Regions from separate parts of the Homo sapiens genome. Here all the other regions are linked to region 2. Evidence: fine-mapped expression QTL. A gene starts in region 2. Each other region holds a variant in brackets. All regions are shown on one strand. Distances are from middle to middle.

What was found. PIP is the estimated chance that this variant, and not a neighbour inherited with it, causes the effect.
Region 1: its variant is fine-mapped to the expression of PGD in whole blood (TOPMed, PIP above 0.99).
Region 3: its variant is fine-mapped to the expression of PGD in CD4 T cells (BLUEPRINT, PIP 0.95).
Region 4: its variant is fine-mapped to the expression of PGD in whole blood (TOPMed, PIP above 0.99).

What each region holds. Positions count from the first base shown.
Region 1 is chr1:10,336,834-10,340,994 of GRCh38, reverse strand. KIF1B (kinesin family member 1B) reads right to left here. Exons shown (of 49, transcript NM_001365951.3): 30 at 3,792-3,921; 31 at 3,462-3,624; 32 at 1,136-1,226. Among named protein-coding and RNA genes, the nearest start is that of PGD, 60 kb to the left of the region's middle. The variant C/T (reference allele first, on the strand shown) is at 2,045.
Region 2 is chr1:10,396,880-10,401,040 of GRCh38, reverse strand. It overlaps PGD (phosphogluconate dehydrogenase), which reads right to left and starts at 1,977. Exons shown (of 13, transcript NM_002631.4): 1 at 1,916-1,977; 2 at 1,337-1,412; 3 at 469-648. The coding sequence starts at 1,923. RefSeq lists silencers at 1,211-1,387, 1,480-1,799 and an enhancer at 2,280-2,589.
Region 3 is chr1:10,066,660-10,070,820 of GRCh38, reverse strand. The region is part of intron 1 of UBE4B (ubiquitination factor E4B); the gene reads right to left. Among named protein-coding and RNA genes, the nearest start is that of UBE4B, 36 kb to the right of the region's middle. The variant AGAAAAAAGAAAAG/G (reference allele first, on the strand shown) is at 2,471.
Region 4 is chr1:10,493,872-10,498,032 of GRCh38, reverse strand. PEX14 (peroxisomal biogenesis factor 14) reads right to left here. Exons shown (of 9, transcript NM_004565.3): 2 at 2,712-2,759. Among named protein-coding and RNA genes, the nearest start is that of PEX14, 21 kb to the right of the region's middle. RefSeq lists an enhancer at 2,545-2,604 and a silencer at 3,067-3,361. The variant G/A (reference allele first, on the strand shown) is at 1,704.

The DNA of each region.
Region 1 (4,161 bases), 60 kb after region 2:
ATGGCATATTTTGTGTTTGCTTGTTCCATCTTTGAAGTTCTCCTTTCCTCTCTTACTTTAGAGAGCAGACATGGTTAGCAAGAGAATGAGAGACAGTTTCATGTAGTAGTGAATATCCTGAATACCAGAGCTAAATTTCTCTGAGCTTAAGTCCTATCTCTGCCTCTTGTAACACTGATGAGTAACTTTATTTTTATTATTACTTTTTTATTTTTTTTGAGATGGGAGTCTCGCTTTCTTGCCCAGGCTGGAGTGCAGTGGCACAATCTCAACTCACTGCAACCCCCCCATCCTGGGTTCAAGCAATTCTCGTGTCTCAGATGGGATTTCACCATGTTGGCCAGGCTGGTCACAAACTCCTGACCTCAAGTGATCCACCTGCCTCGGCCTCCCAGAGTGCCGGGACAGGTATGAGCCACTGCGCCCAGCCTGATGAGTGACTTTAATTGCTCTATGCTTCAGTCATCTCAGCTAACACAGGGATTATCTTAATCTATGGTATAAAGGTAAAGATTAAATTACACAAAAACTCTCAGAACAGTGACTAACACAAAATAAACTCTCAGTGAATATTAGCTATTGTGATGAGGATAATGACTTTGGAATAGAGTTTGAATGAAATTTCACGTAAGAGAGGGAAGGGTCTGTTTTCTTACTCCACGTAGGAATACAGTTGTAAAGGGCATTAATGTGTTAATTATACTATCAGTTGCAAGGAAAACAGATCTAAATCTTAATTTAGCTACAGAAGGTATTTGATATTTTTTATGTTATTTGCAATCGAGCAACATAAGTATCTTAGGGTTTAAAGGACAATGCATTCACTTTAATAAAACTCTTATTAAGCATGCTTATTTTTCTAGGACAGAAACACTAAAACAACTCATTGCATTCAAACTGATGGAAGATTTTATTGGCAGACGAACCCACATTCACTAGGCCCACTGTAACACAGACAAGAAGGCTTGCTGCTCAGGCCGCTGTGGATGACCTCACCACTCTAGCCACGCCCTCTATTGTCTACTCTCCCCCTGCACAGCCAGTGACTTGTACCTCTTCTTATCACCCTTCCCGGGCTGAGAAAGCCAAGGTACCAGAAAAACATATGTTTGGCAAAAAGGTCCATGTCACTTACATTCTGCACATGATAAAAGGCCAGGGGACTTCCTCTGCCATTGTTTTTGAGGGGCTCCGTGGAGAATGCTTCATCATGGCGATGCAAAAAGCTTCATAAAAAAAATAAAAAGACTCGTGAACAATGCATTAAACGGTTTTATCAGAATCTCTTTCAAGAGCCCAATGTGGATCCTACAGAAAGAAGCATTCCACTTAAGCAGATTCTTTAAGTTATTTACTTTCCTTGTCAAGAACCTTTTCCATATTGCACAGAGGGCATTTTAGATTTTATTTCAAAAATGACTGAAAAATTAACTGACCCTGATCACTTAGCTATATGGAGGTATATGCAAGAATGCTTTAGAGAGAGTGAAGAAGTACATTCAATTAACTCCTCTTCCTTTGTAAAAGCTTTTTACTAAAAATAAAAACAATGTCATTTTGTACAGACAAAATTTAGCAGACTCAAGCTTCCACAGTTAGTGCGAGAGCCTGTGGATGGCATAGTTACATAAGAGTCTGTTGTGGATTCAAATGTCACCTCTTCCAGGCAGTCTTTCCTGACTTACCCTGGCAGCTTTGTGTTCCCACATTACTAGTAATGTTTTTTTCCTTAATAGCAATGATTTCACTGTAATAATGTATTTATATGCCTCTCTCCCCCAGACAGCAAGCGTTTTCCCACAGGTCTCGACACACAGAAGATACTCTGGAAAGATTTGTTAAAACAATGGGCTATATTTAGTTATTTTCACAGATAGTGAGATGTTATCGTTCTCTCTCTCTCTCTCCCTATTATTAGTCTGAAATAAAAAGAACTGCACAGTTAAAGAGGACCCAACACAAAGATTTACTGCCAGATAGAAAAATCCATCAGAAGGACACCCCTTCCATCAAGAAAAAATGGAGAAAAAGAAACTATTTTCAA[C/T]TGGGGGGACAGACAGACTGGTAATATGAACTTGTTGTCTTCCAAATTAGTTCACCCGTCTGAGAACACTAGCATGCTTTTGCCAAGTGCTCCAAATCCCTGATTCCTGTATTGCTGGCACCGCAGCATTCCTGGGGTTCCCTGACGACAGGTGAACTCATTCACAGTGCTCTGCAGCCATACCTTCCCGGCACAGGCCAGAGGAGCGACTATAAAAACACAGGACGCCTTTGAGGCTGCTTTCAACAGAAGCAACATGCCCTTTTCCCCAGAGCTAACACCAGGTAGAGATGCTGCTCTTTTTAGGAGATTGTAGGACAAAGGTCAACTCACTATTATTGTCACTTCAGACATCAGTTAACCAAATAGATGTTTTCCATAAAACGTATCAGTTGCCTGATTAGAATAATAGCAACAGTTCCAAAAAACAGATTCATCTGGTGAACACTATCCTGCCCTAAGTTTGAGGGTATGAGTGAAAACACATTAAATAGGTGAAATCAATGCTCAATGGGTAATATTCCAACAACTATGACTTGTAGCAAATGATATTAGTGGCTTACTATATAGTGATCACATTTAATTTAAATCACATTTGACTCAATTTTCTGTGATAAAACCTATACAAAAGCTTTATAAACTGCACTAGGACCCATGGGACGGCCAAGGCACATTCTGAGGGGAGAGGGATGGCAGAACCCAAAGCAGCCTCTTGGTGGCACCAGTGGCAAACTGAGGGCGGTAGGTATGGAGGGGTCACACTTCAGTCTCTTGTACTGTGGCCCTTTCCAAGTACTGAAAAGACAAATTGAAGTTTGGAGGTATTAAAACTGAAGATTCACAAAAAAATGTTTTCCTGGGGCAGTCTTGAGAAGAAAGCATCCAGAGCACAGGGTTTGAGAGGGCCGCGGGAAAGAGCAAGTCCTATGTAGATGAGAAATGAGAGGTATCACATCTTCCCTACATACTAGCTTTTTTCAGTTGATGTAGAATTTATCCTTCTTTACATTGTTTAAATTTTCCTTTTCCCGAGTATTAAATAGGCGTAATTGCTAGCTAGATAAGTCATTGCTTTCAGGCTTATTAATAAGACATTTCAACATGAAGAGGACTAGAAAGACTCATCAACAGGCTTATGTGATCAGACCCTACATTCCTGGTAAAGGGGGACCGCTCACAGCAGAGCCCTGCAGCAGGATGTGCAGCATGCTCCTCCTGCCAGGGAACCCTGTTGCATTCCAGGACAGGTTTCTGGTTCTCACTCCCATAGGAGTGATGAAAGTATTTTCCTTCAGAGACTGATCAGTCTTTGTCTCAAGAGTGTTAATCCCTCACACATGTAAAGCACTCTACAGTGCACAAGAGATGTCACCTCGGTTAGCAGCTAGCTGGGAGGCAGAGCAAAGGGGCAGCTTACTTGAACTGACAGAAGATATCTGCATACTCTGGGAGGATTCCACTGGCCTGCAACACTGTTACTCGGAAAGTGAAGGCACTGCCCAGTTTCAGGTGGTTGCCAATCTCTTCAGAAAACCCTTCCATTACCATCTTACCATCCAGCAAAGTGCTTGACTTCAAATCTAAAGAGGGTCAAATGAAGACACAGATGGTTCAAATAATGCAAAGAGGAGGGAGTTGGGCATGCTTTCCATTCCTAGTTGATGAAGGCCACTATGTCCCTTGATAATGGTCAATATTTTCCCTTTGTCGAAAATGTCCCCAAGCACAGTAAACTATGTCTACATACCCAAGTCATTAATTCGACTGATTTCTTCTGGAGGAGTGATGACCTCAGAACTCTGACCCTGTCCTTCCACAATCCTCAACTCCTCCAAGGACAGACCAGAACGAGTCATTGCAACAGACGAAAAGTCACTCTGAAAAAAAGGCAGGGGCAGATACATGGTAAAGTAGTATAAAAACGTATTTTTCCCCAGTTGCCTTACTTCTGTTTATCTGTCCAACAAATAATAGTGACTGGAAAATTATATGGACTGAGGGCTGTCTGAGGAAAGGCAATGAATAAAATATGAATATTGAGTCTATACACCTTTACCTTCATAATTGTTAGACATGTCCCATATTCTATTGAACTACTCTGTGGCAACCAGCACCCT
Region 2 (4,161 bases):
TAGAGACGGGGTTTCACCATGTTGGCCAGGCTGGTCTCGAACCTGGGACCATAAGCTTGTAGCTGGGACCATAAGCTTACACCACCATACCCAGCTAATTTTTTAATTTTATGTAGAGACAGGGTTTCGCCATGTTGCCCAGGCTGGTCTCGAACTCCTGGGCTCAAACGATCCATCTGAACCAGCCTCCCAAAAAGTGCTGGGATTACAGGCCTGAGCCACTGTGCCCCGCCTTAATGTTTATTGAAATGTCTGTTAGTATTCTCAGAATTACTACCACCAAAGGACAAAGTTACTTCATAAGCGCTTATCAAGTTAACCAACACTGCAACAGTTAAGCAATCATTTGGTCAGAGCTTAGCAGAAATTGAAAAAAAAAAATCTCTAGAGTTAAAAGAAGGAGAACTAAAGGAAGAAACCAAAAACAGCTGCTATCGTGGTAGCAGCTGAGAGCACAGCTGGCCTCACCAATTTCTCGATGAAATCATCCACAGCTTGCCCAGCCTTCACCAGGAGGATGATCCGCCGGGGCTTCTTCAGCTTGGAGACCATCTCTTTCAGGGACTGGGCACCCACCACTTTGGTTCCCTTTGCCTCATTGGCCAAGAAATCATCAACTTTGGAGACAGTCCTATTAAAAGCACAGACCTAGAAGGACAAAAGTCCTGAGTAGGAGATCCAGGACACACAAGACTTTCAGACTGTGGCCAAAGTAACAATGACCTTTCCATTCAACCCAAGTTCTGGGGAGGTCAGACCTGCCTTTGCCTTTTCTTCCCCCAGCTGTGGGAGGCTCACTGTAAAGTTATGTCACCTCAGTAGGATGAAAACGGCGGACAACCGAGGCGAAGGCCAACTACCCCCGGTGTGTCAGGTAGAATCCACACCCAACGTGTTAGGACTCAAAATCAAATCCAGGAACTGGCCGGTTCAACAGGCTCTATCTGTTGTTATTGATCATCCTGGCGTCTAAGCCACTTTAACATTTAGAAGAAACATTTTCACTCTCCCCAGATCTCATCAGGCAATCAAGTTAGAGCTCTACACAGCCAGCAAGGGTTCTCCTCCCGCACCCTTCTTCTCTACTTAAGACACTAATTCGTTCATTCGGGCTGTGAACCTCACGGACCCACAGGCACACTCCGCAGGACTAAGTTCGGGATCGGCCCGCCCACGCCTACAGGGTGCTTCTCCTTTCCATACAAAAATGCCACGAGCAGCAACAGAGCACATTAGCAAAGCACGGCCAGGAGACCCGTAAGCTCCCAAACCTATCGCCGGCCTCGGCTAAAGCGCCCGGGAACCAGAGAGAAGACAACGCGCCCACGCCGCTTACCACAAAGCCGTGGTCATTCATGTTCAGAATTAAGTTCTGGCCCATGACGGCCAATCCGATCAGCGCGATGTCAGCTCTAGAGAGGCAGAAACAGAACAAAGGAAAGAGTCAGCACCGCTCGACGCGCTGCAACCCAGGGGTCCGGTCCTTCCACATTTGGCCGTGACTGGGAGTCTGCACTTTCCTCCGCGCCTCCCGCGGGCCCCCAGAAGCCGGGCGCGCACGCTGCAGAGCCTCGGCCGGGCAGGCGGCCCCCAGCCCCGCCCTCGCGCCCGGCTCCCGCTGGCACGCGTCCCGCAGGTGTCCCTGCAGACTCGGCGAGGCCTGGCCGCGCCTCCTCCCTGGCCCTCGAAGGGACCCGCCCCGCCCCATGCCTGCGCGGCCGAGAGGGCAGGGGGCCGGGCCCGCAGGGAAGGAGCTCTGGGCCCGAGACGCCGTAGGGCCAGGGTCACAGAGCCCCAAGTGAGCTCAGGCGACCCCCAGGGTGGGAGGCGTCGGAGAGAACGAGGGAGATCTCGACCCCCAAAGAGTTCCCCGCCCGCTGAGGCCGAGCCGGGCTGCCCCTGGCGAGTCACTCACTGGGCCATGGCGGCGGACAGAGCAGAACCGAAGAGCGGCGACGCGCGGAGGACGAGTGAGGGAAAGACCCGCAGCGGCTCCCTCCAGAAACTGCGGCCGCTCACGCCCGGCTTTTCGGCGCCGGCCAATCGAATGGAAGGGGGTGGAGCCATGAAGCCACACCATTGGCTCTCCCCGACGCCTGTTAGACCATCCGAGGCAAACGTGCCCGCCCACCCCCGGGGGCCGGATCAGTGGAGCGCCGAGCACCTAGATGACATTGCCCCGGCGAGGCTCCGGGCTCCCCGCCCACGCGCAGAGCTTTCCGCTCGTCCCAGCTGCACCTCGGTCCTGCAGGCCGTCCGCCTGGCGCAGCTGTAGCCATAGCAACTCACGCAGGACCGCGCTTTACAGTTTACCAGGCACTCGGACGCCTTTGGCGCGAGCGCCCGTCGCTCCTTCCTCAGGTCACTGCGGTGCACCGTGCGGGTCCGCGTCGTGTCCTCCGCTCCGGAGCAGGGACCGGGCGTGCTCGTTCAGTCCTGTGCGCACTCGGAATGGGGCCGGGGAAGGCTGAGCCTCAGGGCGACCCTGATGTGGAGCCGTGCGACCGCTCACTGCGGTTGAAGAGACCCAGGCGCAGACAGCGCAGGCGGGGTATGTATTGGTTGGAGTATGATGGGGTCAGGACTTGAGTCTTTTACCCAGGCCCGGAGTTAACGGTATTGAACCCCTTCTCATTTTGTAGAGGCTATGTGACCCGCGAGATGGACCAGGTTAAATGCAGAGGCAGATACAAAAAACCAGCCATCTTAAGCCAGACATTTGCAAAGTAGCCAAGCAGCGCTTCTTATCTTACTGAGTCCCTTCTTGCTAGGAGGAAATTGTTATTCAGAAGTTTGAGTTTTAGATTTTTTTTGTTTTTTTTGAGACGGAGTCTCGCACTGTCGCCCGGGCTGGAATGCAGTGGTGTGATCTCAGCTCACTGCACCTTCCGCCTCCCGGGTTCAAGCAATTTTCCTGCCTCAGCCTCCCAAGTAGCTGGGATTACAGGCGCCCGCCACCACGCCCAGCTAATTTTTGTATTTTTAGTAGAGATGGGGTTTCACCATCTTGGCCAGGCTGGTCTCAAACTCCTGACCTCGTGATCCGCCCGCCTTGGCCTCCCAAAGTGCTGAGATTACCGGCGTGAGCCACCGTGCCCGGCCTTTTTTTGATGTCATTGTTGAGATGGAGTCTGGCTGTGTCTCCAGGCTGGAGGGCAGTGGCGCGATCTGGGCTCACTGCAACCTCCACCTCCCAGGTTCAAGCGATTCTCCTGCCTCAGCCTCCCAAGTAGCTGGGACTACAGGTGTGTGCCACCATGCCCAGCTAATGTTTTTATTTTTAGTAGAGACAGGGTTTCACCATGTTGGCCAGGCTGGTCTCGAACTCCTAACCTCAAGTGATCCACCCACCTCAGCCTCCCAAAGTTCTGGGATTAGAGGTGTGAGCCACTGTGCCCGGCCGGTTTTTAATTTTTATAAAGACCAGGTCTTTGCTCTGTTGCCCAGGCTGGAGTGCAGTGGCATGACCATAGCTTACTGCAGCCTTGAACTCCTGAGGTCGAGCAATCTTCTAGCCTCAACTTCCTGAGTAGCTAGGACTACAGGCATGCAACACCATGCCCGGCTAAGACATCCTACTTTAAAATATGTCAAACTTCACAGCACAGTTCTTTTTTTAAAATACAGATTTAATGAGATAATTTACATGTCATACAATTCAAACATTGTAAGTACACATTTGGATGACCTTTAATTTATACTGTTGTGTAGCCATCACCATAATCCACTTATAGAAAACTTCCATCACCCCAAAACGTTCCCTTGGGCCTATTTGTAGTCAGTCTCTGCTCTCACCCCCAGCCAACCTCTGATCTACTTTGCATGGTTTTTGCCTTTTCCAGAAATTTCATAGAAATGGAATAATAGCATATAATTTTTTTGGTCTGGCTTCTTTCACTTAGCATCACGTTTCTGAGGCTCATCTGTGTTGTAGGTATGAGTGGTTTGTTCCTTTTCATTGCTGAGTGGTATTCCATTAATGCAATTGTGTCATCATTTGCTTATCCATTTATCTGTTGATAGACATTTGGATTGTTTCTAGTTTGGGAAATAAATAATTCTGTTTTGAACTCATGTACAAATTGTTGTTTTCATTTCTTTTGTGTGTGTGTGTGTGAGATGGAGTCTCACTCTGTAGCCCAAGCTAGAGTGCAGTGGCAC
Region 3 (4,161 bases), 330 kb after region 2:
ATTTTCTTTTTTTACTTGATTCAATAAAAATACAATCTGCCACTTCTTCCTTTTAACATATAATTAAAGAGCAACATCTTATTGAAAGAGAAAAATTAATCCATTCATTCAAAATGTGTTTGTTGAACTCCTACTAACAGCAGGGCATCTCCAAAAGCTTCCTAACAGATTTACCCATGTCCCCTGAGCAAAAGAAGCCAGATGTAAAAAAAACAGAGTGGATGATTCCATTTCTATAAAATTTGAAAATAAGAAAAACTAAACTATACCATTAGTTTGGATAATGGTTATCCTTGGTGGGAAAGGGGCAGGAAGCAGCTCGGGAGAGGCAGGAGTGAGATTCTAGGGATCTGGTAATGGTTTTTTTTTTTTTTTTTTAATTTTAACTGGATACTAATGTCACAGCTATGTCCACTTTATGAAAACTCACTGGGTTGTATACTTACAACTATGAGTAATCAGTTCATGGGTATTCATCTTATTCTTCTTCATAGTTTATATGTTAAATATAGTCTTCTGTGTAGCATGTAATTTTTTTTTTTTTCTGAGACGGAGTTTCGCTCTTGTCACCCAGGCTGGAGTACAATGGCACCATCTCGGCTCACTGCAACCTCCCCCTCCCAGGTTCATGCGATTCTCCTGTCTCAGCCTCCCAAGTAGCTGGGACTACAGGCATGCACCACCACACCCACCTAATTTTTAATTTTTTGTAGACATGGCATCTCACCATGTTGCCCAGGCTGGTCTCAAATTCCTGGGCTCAAACAATCCTTCCACCTCGGCCCCCCAAAGTGCTGGGATTACAAGTGTGAGCCACCATGCCGGGCCAAGTTTCATTATCTTACAGACAGCTAAATTTAGGAGTTCATGCTTGATTTCTAATTCAAATTCAACCTTTATTACTGACTACTTTACTTATCTGGAGCCTATCCAGATAAGTCACTTAACAGCTCTCTGCTTCAGTTTCTGCACAATGGACATCCGTACACTGCACATCTGTACAATGGGGATGAAATCATCGGCCGAGGGGAGTCCGAGGCGGTGGATCATTTGAGGTCTGGAGTTCGAGACCAGCCTGGCCAACACGGCAAAACCCTGTCTCTACTAAAAATACAAAGATCAGCCAGGCATGGTGCCACACACCTGCAATCCCAGCTACTTGGGAGGCTGAGGCAGGAGAATCGCTTGAACCTGGGAGGCGGAGGTTGCAGTGAGCCAATATCGCACCGCTGCACTCCAGCCTGGGCGATGAAGTGAGACTCCGTCTCAAAAAAATAAGAAAAAAACCAGTATCTTCCTTACAGGGTTGTGAGAAAACCACCACCCTGTCCCTTTCCCTACTTATTTTTTCTCCGTGGCTCTGATCTGCCCTATGACATGTGTGATATATTTATTTGTGTATTGCTTAGTTACCATCCCCCTAATTGAAGTTTCTTAAAAGCAAGAACTTCCGTTGCACCAGTGCCTAGAACAGTGTCTGACACATGGTAGGTACTCTCTAAATATCTGCTGAATAAATGAGAAATACTAGAAAAATGCACTGAACATAAAATTGACTAATTTATTAGTTGACGTTATCATTATCATTGGAAGAGCATACCCACTATTGTTGGAAAAAATATGAAGTCACCTTAAACCTCAATGCCAAGTTCAGCCCAAGATGTTAAATTCAGATGTTCTACTCAGTGATATAAACAGAGAATAAATGTTCTGACTCACTATAATATGCGGTTGAAGAAAGAAAGGATTCTAAGGTTTCAAAAAAGGTTGAAGAATCAAGACTTTGTGAAGCATGTTGCAGACTATTAAGCAGGAAGAAAGAGTTAAGAGACAGAGGCAGGTCCATACATGACAGAAGGAGTAGGAGAAGATTGGGAGAATACATTTTGCCCCATCTTAAAGATCCGCTGGAAAATTTAGGAAGAGCCATGCAGGGGGCAGCGTTCTGGGCTGCCCACAGCAGGGCTCTCAGTAGAGGATAATGCCCTTGGGTGGTCTGAATGCCTTCTACACTGGTGTTAACTTTGAACTGGTTTAGCAACCTGAGGCCCTGGGAATATCTGGATAGGGGACTCACAAGAGAATGGCTTTGTGCAATCACAGGTATAAAGGTTTACCTCCAGCCTGGGCAACATGGAGAAACACCGGCTCTACTAAAAATACAAAAACTGGCCGGGCACAGTGGCTCATGCCTGTAATCCCAGCACTTTGGGAGGCCAAGGCAGGCAGATGGCCCGAGGTCAGGAGTTCGAGACCAGCCCGACTAACACGGGGAAACCCCATCTCTACTAAAAATACCAAAAATTAGCCAGGTATGGTGGCACGCGCCCATAATCCCAGCTACTGAGGAGGCCGCGGCAGGAGAATCACTTCAACCCGGGAGGAGGAGGTCACAGTGAGCTGAGATCGCACCACTGCACTCCAGCCTGGGCAACAGAGCGAGACTCCTGCTCAAAAAAAAAAAAGAAAA[AGAAAAAAGAAAAG/G]AAAACTGTGCCAGGTGCAGTGGCTCATGCTCGTAATCCCAGCATTTTGGGAGGCCAAGGTAGGTGGGATCACTTCATGTCAGGAGTTTGAGACCGGCCTGGCCAGCATACTGAAACCTCATCTCTACTAAAAATACAAAAATTAGCCAGGTGTGGTGGTAGGCACCTGTAATCCCAGGTACTTGGGAGGCTGAGGCAGGAGAATCACTTGAACCCAGGAGGCGGAGGTTGCAGTGAGCCAAGATTGTGCCACTGCACTCCAACCTGGGCAACAGAGCAAGACTCCATCTTAAAAAAAAAAAAAAAAACTGGCCAGGCATGATGGCTCACCCCTGTAATCCCAGCACTTTGGGAGGCTGAGGTGGGCGGATCACAAGGTCAGGAGATCGAGACCATCCTGGTTAACACGGTGAAACCCTGTCTCTACTAAAAATACAAAAAAATTAGCCAGGCATGGTGGTGGCCACCTGTAGTCCAAGCTACTCGGGAAGCTGAGGCAGGAGAATGGCGTGAACCCAGGAGGCGGAGCTTGCAGTGAGCTGAGATCACGCCATTGCACTCCAGCCTGGGCCATAGAGTGAGACTCCATCTCAACAACAACAACAACAAATACTGAGATGGGAGGATCACCTGAGTCTGGGAAGGTCAAGGCTGCAGAGAGCCATAAAATCCAGTCTGTGCAACCCGGTGAGAGCCGGGTCTCAAAAAAAAAAAAAAGTGTATCTAATTAATTTGACTACTAAGAGATGCAACCTCACTTTTTATCACAAACAGAACATATGAGATACACACCAAAAAATAGTCACAACACACCAAAATATGATTAAACATTTTTCTCATTGTTTACTTGACTTTTTTAACATTAACCCAAAGGACTGGCATAATCTCCTTTAAGTTAAACAAAAGTCCTTTTTTAAGAGAATTTTGTTTTCCCCTATCTCACAGAGAAAAAAAAAAGTATAAAGAACTTCCAATTCCTCAATTTGTGTCCTAAACCACAACTCAAAGCCACACATACTAATCATGAAATCTCATTCCTAGAGTTTTTCTTGTCTGTTTCAGTTCTTATTTCACAAACGACATTAAAATAGGGCTTTCTCCTAATCTGTTATATGACGCAGCACTTCCCACCCTCACGTTCCTGATGAACTAAAAATAGATTCAAAACAGTGAAGGCCATTGTGATTGCAGGCAGAAGCTAAGACAGGATGGGCCAAACTGTTCCTCTTATTTTTAGCAGTTTGTGGGGAAAAACACCCACAAAACACTGTTATAAGTTTAATAAACAGTCATTCTACAAAAGTGTCTTACTTTTCTACTTTAAAAAAAAGTGAATTCCAATATAAAGAAAAATAATTGGAAATACTTTCTCTTTGGGGTAGTCTCCTTGGAAAGATGACAATAACTCCTAGTTCTGTTTTGGTTTTTTTTTGAGACGGAGTCTTGCTCTGTCACCCAGGTTGGAGTGCGGTAGCGTGATCTTGGCTCACTGCAACCTCTGCCTCCCGGGTTCATGCCATTCTCCTGTCTCAGCCTCCCGAGTAGCTGGGACTACAGGCGCCTGCCAAAATGCCTGGCTAATTTTTGTATTTTTAGTAGAGTCGAGGTTTCACCTTGTTGGTCAGGCTGGTCTCAAACTCCTGACCTCAGGTTATCTACCTGCCTCAGCCTCCCAAAG
Region 4 (4,161 bases), 97 kb before region 2:
GCTGGGATGATAGGCATGAGCCACTGCACCTGGCCAGTAACTTACTTTTTTAATAAGGGGAAAAATTATTTCAAAGTGATCATCTAGTCTGGGACAAAGAATAAGATTATTTGCCTTTAGTGTAGAGACCAGGCAACTTCCATTAAGGAATTGTATGAAAAATATGCATTCAGTTAAAAACAAAAAGAATATGTATTTCCCGAAGCTTAAATGAAAAAATTAACAATAATAAACACAAAAACAAAACAACTTAGCAGTGTGTTCCCCCAACACTGAAATATCCCATTCCTCAAGGCCTGGCTTCAAGTTTCCCAAAAGCCATCCCTAAGTGGCCCTCGCCCTCCGCAGAGCTCTTCCTGCTCTGAATAACTTGGGGCTCTCTTCTACGCCCAACCAGGCAGCTCTGCACCAAATGATACACAATGTTGTGCTATTTGCTAAAATTACATACAGTCGTGTGCAGTTTGCTCTTATTTCATATGTATAAATGCCTTTTCTTCCCAAAGTAAAACACGTGAATTACTCAAGAACAAGGTTTAGTTTTATTCCTCAATTGTCTGTTCCCCATCCTCAGGCCTGAGCTGAGCTAAGCTGAGCATGCAGGAGACAGCAAATACACATGGCCTGAGAAAGCTCCCTCCCTGTGGAAGGGCTGACTGCTGTGTGTTTTCACAAACCGCAACACCACCACACTGAGCTGTGGGGCTTTCTGTGCAAGGGGGCTGCCCATCTTGTGCCCCCGCCCTGCCACACGAGTCCTCAGCGGGCTCCTCTGCCTGACACCCTCCCAACACCACTCCCAGGAGGAAGAAGCAGTTCACACAAGACCACGCGACTCAGCTGGTGCCCCCGTTTAATCAGGCTGCTGCAAATGCTTGGCCAAAAGCAATAAGGGCATGACTGAGAGACTGTGGGAGTTTAATATAAAAAATTTAATAAACAAAAAAGTGGGGGAAGGAGAAAGGGTCTACCTTTTAATAGGGCCCTAATTACCCAACTCATAGGATCAGCCCAAATGAGATGGGAGTTTATTTCGGGGGTTTTTTTAATTATTATTTTATATATATATATAAATTGCCGCTATGTGTTTTCTTTCCTCTGAGCAATTATGCAGCAAGTACGTAAAGAGGAGAAAAAATATTAATTAAATATAAGGTAATTGTGGAGTTGGCCTGGAGAGAATGAGTCTGAACTCTGGACGATCACAGGCTACTAGGGTTTGAAGACTGCTCAGGGCCTCCCAGAAAAGAAAGAAATAAAAATACAACCAACCAACAAGCAGATGCACAGTACAGCAGGAAGAGCAGGGCACAGAAACACTAGCAGAGCAAGGGGTCTGCAGGGCTCCAAATACCAGAAATCAGTGAGCTGGCCAACTGCTCAGGGCTCCCAAAGAGCTTGTCGAATCAAGCCCCAAAAGATGGACTGGCCACTCCTCCGATGACCAGTTAAATGGGTACATCAAAATTTGAAAAGAGAGAGGAAGGAAAGGACTGCAGCGGCCTATGGTGTTCAATCTGCACTTCAGTCTAAAACAACCACAACTTCGGCCTGAGGGGCACTGAGGCAGGCCCCAGGGAAGCAGGCAGACGTCCGGAGAGACTAGCAAGGTGGGGCCTCCTGGGCTTTCCCACCACCATGACCTCAAGGAAGGAACTGGGCAATACCAAAAGAGTGAAACGAGGCCACCGTGGGAGTGCTGG[G/A]ATATAAGCCCGTAACTGGTGACGTAACAGCAGGTGACATGAATGACAACACTGCTCCCCTGAAACAGTCCCAGCAGTGCTTGTATCACCTCGGCCTTTCTACAGACAGCTCAACTGGATCCAACTCGCCCTCAGCCTGGGAAAGCCTTCGTACACACTGGAATTCAGACGTGTTCATACCCGCTAAGTCCCTCACGTCATCTCCTCCCGCGACTGCCAGAAGGGGAGTGAAGCAGAACAGGTGAAACCACAGGCCCTGCTGAAACAAAGCCTTGGCAGTACAGCCCTACGCCTGCTATCGCTACGCAGGAAGAAAAAGCTCTGAAAAGTTAAACCTAGAGCTGGCTCTCCCATCAAACTTATCTGGTTTATACAGAGCCAGTCTTACTACCCAGCCAAGAGGACTTACAGCAGGCCCTGAAAAGCAAAAAAGAATGAAAATGGGGTGGGCAGCCTGGGACTCTGGCCACCAAATGAAAAGCACTTGGGAGAGAAAATTACCTGCAGTGCTTAATAGGCCTCTTCCCTATCCATAGTCTAAGAAGACAGCGTTGGGAATGACAATCACACAATTACTGACCAGGCAAAACCAGAATTCCATCGCTTACCTGTTCTTTAAAGACCACTGAGGCGCTCGCACCCTGAGGGGCAGAGCAGAGGGCGGCTACTTCAAACAATCTAGAAGCCCAGCCACCTCACTCCACCTCAGCCTCCCACGGGCGCAGGAATCTCACTAATTACTATTGATCAGCCACAAACAAAGTGGTGCAGGACCATCTGGGGTGGATGCTTTTAGTCCTAGAAAGGACCAGCCTTTACTAAGGAGAGATCTCACTCGTCCCCACACGCGAGAAGAGAAGTCAGAGGTCACTGACAGAGGCAGTCTCTAGGTAACAGCTACTTTTAAAGGGACACTACTGACGCAGAACCATAGGAACAGAAGGTTTCTTTTCACTCGCGTGGCATTTTAATTACTAGAAAGTGATACCACATATCTTGGGTACTTACCAGCGGCTCTCGAGGCAGCACATTTTCACTTCCTGGAGTAGAGCTTGGCTGCAGAGAAAAATGGAAACAAAAATAAGATCACAGTGCCACCCAATGGACATCAAAAAACCAAAGATGTTCCGTTCTCAAACGATGCACGCTGGCACCTCTTTCTCACATCTCTCACTGGTTTTTCACGACACAAGAGTATTTTGCAGTGGACTACCTGTAAAAAGTAGCCCAAAGAGTCTGAATTCACCAGGGAAGATGAAGACTGTTTCTGGGTTCACTTGTCACACCACTCCAAGAACAAGGCTTGGTTCTGCTCAGGAAGGCCCACGATCACCTACTGAGCAGCAAGGGCTGGGGACCATCCCAAAATCCACGGGAAGAGTAGAGTCCAGAGAAAAGGCCTGAAGAGAGAGCACAACACCTCCTCTTTCTGCCACCTCCCCAACGTCAGGGGACTGGGAAGAAAAGTCGCGCAGCAGTGGAGAACCAGATTCCACCACCAGGGGGCCCCAGCTGCCCACGCTCAGGATTTTCTCTGGGCATCTAGTTTCTGGAGCCCAGAAGCCAGTAAACTACACAGGTTCCTATTCATCACCTGCCACTAAGGACACCACCCCACAATAGTAAAGAAAGCCCCAGGCTTAAATCCTTCTTGGAAATAAGCTAGTGACAGGCTGGCATATAAGCAGACCAACCTCCAGGCGAGCAGGCAGCACTGTGGCCGAGGCCCTGGCTCTAGCCCGTTTCCTCTTCCTTGGGGCCACTACCTCACCCTCACAGGCGCCTTCGACCCTTGACTGATCTGGCCAAAATTTAGAGAAAGGGAGAGGCAGAGGTAGAGACAGATTCTGAAGAAATTTACAAATCTCCAAAAGAATAAAGTAAGCAGGTATGCTGCTAAGTGAGCTATGATTAGTTTACTGTGACTGATGGTCAGGCCAATTGCCATCTATCTACAGTTAATATCCAGACAAGTGCAGCAAAATCTGTGTGTCCCAGGAGACAGCCTGCAGCCTCCATTCTCCCGGCTATTACAGATCAGATGGAAGTGCCAGGCCGCCTTGGAAAAGGACAGAGGCCCGGTCTGCAGAGGGTTCCCAAAAATTCCTCATGCCCAGCTACTACCACATTAGCTGGCACACAGCACAGTGGCAAGCACTCTGCTGGGTGAAGGCCTCTATCCCTCCATCCGAAGTCCTGTCCCAAGAGCCTCACCACCCCAGGACAAGAGGTCAGCCAGCAGGAAACGATCTAGAAAGTGAGGGTCCGTCTCAGGGAATGTGAGCAAGCTTCCCCTGCCTCCCTGCCTCCTGTCCTCCCAAAGCTCCAGGCATTGGTAACTTCAAACCTTTAGAGCTCCAGCCCACACCCCTCTGAGATACACATCCGACTGCCTTCCTGCCTCTTCTTGGAGTTAAGCTGCCCTGGAGCAGACTCACAGTCCTCTCTGACACATATG